Linked DNA regions of Homo sapiens. The protein of the gene in region 1 purifies or fractionates together with the protein of each later gene. This does not show direct contact. Each region holds a gene or a part of one and is shown on either strand. Other genes may lie near its edges.

Region 1 (3,653 bases):
ATTTATTTATTTATTTCTCCTTCAGGCAGTGGCATAATAATGCAAGAGCTGAAGCCCCTGGGATAGTGTATGCGTTGCTTCCTTGTCATCTGTCTTGTTGAGATTCCAATGCTTTTTGGATATAGTAGGTGTGCTTCTAGCCCTTTTTTAGGACTTGGTGGTAGCAATAGCAGTGGTAGAGAAAAAACGAAGTTCTAATCTATGGTGCTGAATTCTTACCTGAATTGCACTGCTGTCTTAGAGTTGCTTGGCTTGGTATAGTTTGAGTGTTCCCAAATATATGTTATATGGTACTAGTGGCTTTATTCTTGTATAGTATACTTAAGTTTGCTTGTTTTAAATTAGCTTATAGTATTTTCAGAAACCCGTTCTAGAAGTTCATTCTGCTTAAAATGAAATTACTGAAATGTTTGTGCGTGTGTATAGTGTATTTAATTGTTAGCATGGTGGGAAGGTAAAATTAATTTGGCATTGACCTTGAGATTGGGAGTGCAGTGGTGCTGCTTGAAGTCAAAGTTAGTTGTCCTATGGCCATAGCATAGCTGCAATGTATTTTTCAGCATATTTTCTTGGGGTATCTCTTCCTTGCTGACTATAGAACTGTGTAATTTCTTTTGCCACCTGCTTGGAATGTGGTCTTGGCATGATCTGCATATTTTAGTCTCTCTGAAGCATCTGCTCTTCTTCAGGCTACTGAATTTTGACAATTTGATCAGTTTGTCTCATTTAAATATAGACTGTTTTAATGTATATATTTTAAAAGGTTTTCCTATAGGTAGAATACTTGATTTCAGAGAGCCTGGTCATAGTCTGATCATAAAAGAAAATAGTCAAGAAGTCAAACAAATGTAGGAATGAATTTGGTTGAAAGCCTCAGCTGAGTTTAAAGAAGCACATCTAAGCAGAGGTTGATGAACAGGTGTACCCATAAAATAATGTCAGGTGTTATATTAGCCTTTCTTTAGATAATATATTTCACTTCTTCCCTTTACATCAATAGGAGGGTGGGCTTGTGAAGAAGTTCTTTTTTCCCTATGCCCAAGTTTCACAGATGGAAAATTGAACATTGCCAAAGGAATTCTGCTCAGCAGATTAAGTATGTTCATGTTTTAGAATAAAAATTGCCAAAACTTTGTTGAGAAACCACTTATGAGGAAACCTTAAATACTAATTAGGAAGCTAAAAATTGAATATTGGTATATTGGTATAGAATGAATATATATATATATATATATCTTTTTCCAAATTATGACATTCCGTGTAATATGAGTGAATTACTCAGCTCTGCTGATGAGGACTTATGTTGATTATCTAACCTACACAGCCCCATATAGTAGCCACTGGCTGCATGTCACTGTTTAAATTTAAATTAATTAAAATGAAATAAAATTTAGCATTTAGCTCCTCAGGCACACCAACCACATTTCAAGTGCTCAGTACTAGGTGGCTAGTGGCTACTGTATGGACAGTGCAGATACAGAACACTTCTATCATCACAGCAAGTACTACTGGACAAAGCTGATATAGTAAGCATGGTTTTCTTTTCTTAGGAAAACTAAATTTTATTTTTATTAAAAAATCTTTCCTTAGTTCTAAACAGATTTTTTTTGTGAAAGACAAGAAGATTTATTAAAGTTTTATTAAACTATCTCTTAACTCATCACAAAAATGAGCCCTGTAAATTCATACATGCTTCTTGGATGAGTAATGGTGAGGCCAGTAAGCCCAAGAACTTAAATGAACATTCTTATACTTTAGTTTGCATTCTCAGAGCTGGGGAACTGTCTGTAGGCACAGAAGATGGAAAAGGGATTTTCTGGTCTGTTTCTGACTTTAAGTTACACATTTTAAAAAGTACTCTGAAGACACTGGGGTTTGTTCATCCCCGGCTTGCTACTAAAGTAGTAATGATTGTTGTTTTCACATTTTCCTTTTTTTTTTTGAGATGGAGTCTTGCTCTGTTGCCCAGGCCAGAGTGCAATGGTGTAGTCTCAGCTCACTGCAACCTCCGCCTCCCGAGTTCAAGCGATTCTCCTGCCTCAGCCTCCTGAGTAGCTGGGACTACAGGCGTGTGCCACCACACCCAGCTAATTTTTGTATTTTTAGTAGAGATGGGGGTTTCACTATGTTGGCCAGGCTGGTCTCAAACTCCTGACCTTGTGATCCGCCCACGTTGGCCTCCCAGAGTGCTGGGATTATAGGCGTGAGCCATCGCCCCTGGCCTGTTTTCACATTTTCTTTAGTAGGAAGTGCTGTACAGATATCTCACGTTGAGGAAATGCTTTATATTGCCTTTGTCTTAATATTTCAAGGGCAAACCAAAAGAGATACTAGCTTAACTAATGATCCACTTCTGCATGCTTTATTTGGATCTAGGATAAATCAGTACCCCACCCCCCGGAGTTTAAGTGATGATTGGTAAATGTCAGAGAAAGATTTCATACCAAACAAAATGTATTCTATTTATTTAAAATAGTTTATTTTTATTTTCATTTACTTATTTTAATAAAGGAATTGTCATCCAAACACATTTAATTAAAGTCTTAGCCAGGTACAGTGGCTTATGCCTGTAATCTTAACAACTTGGGAAGCCAAGGTGGGAGAATCACATGAGCCCAGGAGTTCGAGGTTACAGTGAGCTGTGATCATGCCACTGCACTCCAATCTGGGCGACAGAGACCTGTCTCAAAAAAAAAAAAAAAAAAAAAAAAAAGAAGACTGTGCATGAAATACTTTAAAAATATTTACTGTTAATAGAAACTCCAGAATTTTTATTTTTATATAGGGTGAGAGAGAGTCATGGGCCAAAGTCTGGCTGGAAGGGAGCTGAAATGCCAGGGGACTTGCTGCCAAGCTGTTTTTACGTAGCAAACAGTTTTCCTTAAATTGGGGCATTATTTGGGGGGGGCTTTAGGGAAAGCTGATGGAGATTACGTTTAGTTACCTCCTGCTCCCCAACTGACAGCTGCCCTGTCTTTCTGGGTTATGTGATTATTTGATAGTGTCCTGCTTTTCGGGGAGGGATACATATTCATTGTGTGACAAAAAGTAATTTTTAGGAATTATTTCTGACTTTGAAATTCTACGGAAAGTTTCAAAAATGTATTTCGAGAGCAATGTCTTGTAACCTTTGAGCCGTAAAACCAATTTAGTATGTGAAGATGAACATTTTAAGAATGTGAAATAAAATAGAATTCAATAGAATATATCAGAAATGCATGTGTTTATACTGAGTGGTGCTTCAGAATGTATTTTTTACTATAAGTGCAGTCAACATTTGAGAGGCATTGTTCTAGTGGAAAGAGCACTGGGATTTTGGAAAACTCTGGGAGTCAGTGGTCTAGCTTTAACTTTAAATCTGTTATCACTGGTAGGGGTGAGATCCTTACCTACTCTGGGCCCACTTGATGGATCTTCCTTATAACCCTAGGGTCTGATTTGTTACCTGATGCTCACAGAGTACTCAGTAAGTGTCTAGTTCTTGAATGATCCTTTTTTATTTTTTTGTGAGACAGTCTCACTCTATTGCCCAGCCTGGAGTACAGTGGCACAGTCTTGGCTCACGACAACCTCTCTCTCTCAGGTTCAAGTGATTCTCATGTGTCAGCCTCCCGAGTAGCTGGGATTACAGGTATCCACCACCGTGCCCGGCT
Region 2 (3,653 bases), on another chromosome or scaffold:
GCGGTGAACACTGTGAACGTGCAGATCGCCTTCTCCGGTTTGACAGAGGCATGCTGGGCCATCATGCTCCAACAGGGCCTGCTATCAACCTGTTTATAGACTCTGCCCTGGGATAGCACCCGGCCTATAAATAGTAGCAAGGCCTTTGTCCCTCAGCTTTCTCTGCTCTTTGTCATGATTTTCTCCTCTTCAAGAAAGAAATTAAATCTGTGTTAAAACAGTCTGTTGTCCTGTAGAGGGCCTCAGATGGTGGGCTTTATTCAAGAATAGCCCTGCCCAGCAGCAACAGAATGCAAGCCACATTACAATGAGTAAAAAGAAGCATGAGAGATTAATTTTAATAGTATCCTTTATTTACCTGAATAAATCTGAATCGTTAACATTTCAACGTATAATCAACCTGAAGTTATTAATTTTGCATTCTTATTTGATGCTAAGTTGTAGAAGTCCAGTGTGTTTTTTGTGCTTACAGCACGACACAGTTTGGGCCCCATTTCAAGGTCCAGTAGCCACAGGCGGCCAGCGGTCTCCACGCTGGACAATGGGCTGTAGATTGTCACTAAAACAGGTGTCCCTGCCCGTTCCCATCCCCCTCTGAGCCACCGTTTCTTGGTCTGAAACGTGCAGGCTCTGCCTCCGAGGCTTCTTCCGGCTGTAAAGATCTGCGATTCCGCGGTGCACGCATGGTTCTGGCCCATCTTCCAGATTGTCTGGTTGAACTCTGTCCAGAGAAAGGCAAATAAAGTAACTTGGCTGAAGCCATGCTGAGAGTCTGTCCTGGGAAATGCTGATGCGGCCCAGGAGATGTGGATGGAGGAGGCAGCCAGTCTGCCACGGCAGAAGCAGCAGCGTGGCCATGGGAGGTCCTTCTTCCAGTGAAAGTTCTGAGTTAGGAAAGGTAGTCCTGAGGAGAGACAGGCTTTTAGGGTTGCCCTCCTCACCTCCAAGTTCCAAATTGTCCAGCTTCCTGTTTTCATGGGATATTAGAAATGCAGATTTATATAAAATATTCCACTTTCTTAAAAGTTTGCAAACAATACATTAAAAAAAAAAGATTTTGAGGGAGCCTGGAGCCATCTGATGGCTCTCTGCACGGTAGCTGGACCCTAGCTTAACCTGAGATTGGCGACGCCTCCTGGAACACCCTCACCCAAAGGCAGGTCAGCACATTTACACTATTCACAGGGGCTCCCCCTCAGTGGGCAGTCCGTGTGTGAGTCATATCGGGCGCTAGGGGCCGCAGGTCCCAGGCAGTCACTCAGCCCCACGCCAGCTTGAGCGGGTTCATATGCAGGCCCGAGAGCCCCTCGCAGGCAGCGTTGGTTGGGAAACTTGTCACTCGGCTTTCTTGCAGCGACAAGGTGTCTACCTGGACATCTCATATTGAAGGCTCTTATTTCCAGTGTCAGCTCTGTAGGAAAAATATCTGTATCTGATCTGTTTTACCTTTTTGACTTGCACGAAGTACTTGGTAACAAGACACTGCCCTTCAGGAGAGAAGCAGCAGCATGCCGGGGCCTCAGCCTGGCCACTCTTTTGTTTTTCTGTACTCTTTGAAATATGCGTGGCTCAAATGCCAGGGATGTAAATAGAAGTAAGTTACCAGAATAAAGATGCTATCAGCGATGTGAACCGGAATCTACAGGCTGAGGCTGAGGCAGGCGTCTGATTAGATGGGCTGAGTGACTCCACGAGACAACAGTGTGCATTTGCACCTGACGCCAGGTGAGATGAGATACTGAGGGTCTGTTACAGCCACTTTTAAATCCATACGATTAAGAAATTTGTGTGAAAGAGTGCCAGAAATGAGGTGAAAAAAATCTAGCTTCCAATTCCAATGAGGTAATTTGTGTAAGTCTGATTTGGAAATGTTTCTCTTTATTACATGTTGAATCTAAAAAAAAAACAAAAACAAAAAAACACGTAAATCCAGACAGAAACCAATTTCAATTCTAAGCTCTCTTACGGGATTCTCTTTGTAAGCTTAGGAGTTATTTGGAGCTGTATGACTTAACATCGATGCATCACTAAGACAAGCTTTCTCTTGCCGATATGTGTATGAGGCACTCCCGGCCTCAGAGCCGAGATCCAGCCCTGTTTCCATGGCCCATGCCAACTCGCAGGTGGAAGGCACAGGTCCCTGAGGGGGCTTTGTCCAGGCTTCCTGCCTAGGCACAGGCTGGATAGGAACTTTCGTGTGACTTTATATCATTCTTACACCCGCGTCTGGAGGGGTGTGACCTCCTCTGGGGAGAAGCAGAGGTGGTCTCTATGTGTTCTGGGAGCTCACTGTTCTGAGACATCCTTCAGAGGCGCATGGCTGAAATGGATCTGACTGTGAATGTCAGCTTAGACCAGGCCATGGAAAGTGCTAGGCTTAAAAACTAACTTTTCTTTGATTTTTTTTAAAACAATGGATGCTGAACTAATTTCGATCTACATGTCAGGAACTATGGAGGGTTTGAGGTCATTCCCCACTTGCAGGCTAACAACGTCGCCTGCCACAGTTTTGCAGATGCTGCAGAAGACGTGAGATGCTGGGCCAGAGACAAGAGACTTGCTGTTCACAGCACAGCAGGCATCATGAGCTGCGTGTGCGCACGGGTTCCCTCTGCTTCTCAAGCCCCCCAGGAGCAGTGGGAGCGGCCCCCTCCGATGCAGTGCATTTGTGTTGTAGCTGAGGAGAACTGGCTTAGGAAACCCCCAGTGTCAAAAGGAGGCTGCTGGCAAATCCCCAGCCTTTGTTACAGAGAGAGATGGTATTGTAATTATCTTAATTATCGAACTCTCCTAGGTTGTTTGCTATACAAACATCCTCAGAAAGAAGGATGACTTATGTCAGAGAAACATATTCTCTATCATACTTGGGGGAATGAACTCCTAAAGCAAGGACTGGTGGCTGCTGAGTAGGATGGAAATGTGCTTCCTTTCCTGTCCCACAGCATCCTGTGACTTTCGTGATCATAACTCACTGTGTGATTTCTTGGTCCTTCTCCTCCAGTGCCCAGAGGAGATGGCATCATGTTTCTGCTGCTTCTCCCAAGTCTCACACAGAACTTAGCATCTAGAGAGATATTTTAAAAGCTTTTGCTGAACAAATTAATGAAAATTCTCACAGTAGAAATTAAGTGATATACATATATATATCTAATATGCACATAGAAAAATTCTGTTCAAAAATGTATATAATGGGAAATGTCTCTACAGACTTCACTGCTGCCAGCCCCAAGTTGCCCCTGGAGAGTTGGGGTGCGCACACGTCCACACGTGGGTAGACCCCGCTTTTCCTTCCAGACACGTGGAAGCTGGCATACTCTTCACACATGTGCTCGGCATCTTGCTTTTCTTTTCTGTTTTGTATTTCAGTGTAACAATGTATTTGGCAACTGTTTTGCATTTGTTCTTATATTCTCTTTAAGAGCTGCTATAGTATTCTAATGTGTTTCTTTAGTCTCTCCCAGGTCCATGGACTTTTAGGTAGCCGACAGTATTTTGCTACTACAAACAATGTTCTAGTGACCGTTTTGTTGGTGGGAATAAAATATTTCACCAGCATTTGAGGGTTAACTTCAAGCCACTCATATAAAATGGGAATCACCATCTCCTATGACCAAATGACACTATTTTAGCCCACTTTCTCATTCCTGTGTCGG

What was found. The genes of interacting proteins can lie anywhere in the genome.
Region 2: the proteins of LPGAT1 (region 1) and VIPR2 purify together in Homo sapiens (co-immunoprecipitation; one large-scale study listed by IntAct). This does not show direct contact.

The regions. Positions count from the first base shown.
Region 1 is NC_000001.11:211,824,249-211,827,901, reverse strand, and holds part of LPGAT1 (acyl-CoA:lysophosphatidylglycerol acyltransferase 1), read left to right. Parts: intron 1-3,653. UniProt on the Homo sapiens protein: Lysophospholipid acyltransferase involved in fatty acyl chain remodeling of glycerophospholipids in the endoplasmic reticulum membrane.
Region 2 is NC_000007.14:159,138,337-159,141,989, reverse strand, and holds part of VIPR2 (vasoactive intestinal polypeptide receptor 2 isoform 1 precursor), read left to right. Parts: intron 1-3,653. UniProt on the Homo sapiens protein: G protein-coupled receptor activated by the neuropeptides vasoactive intestinal peptide (VIP) and pituitary adenylate cyclase-activating polypeptide (ADCYAP1/PACAP).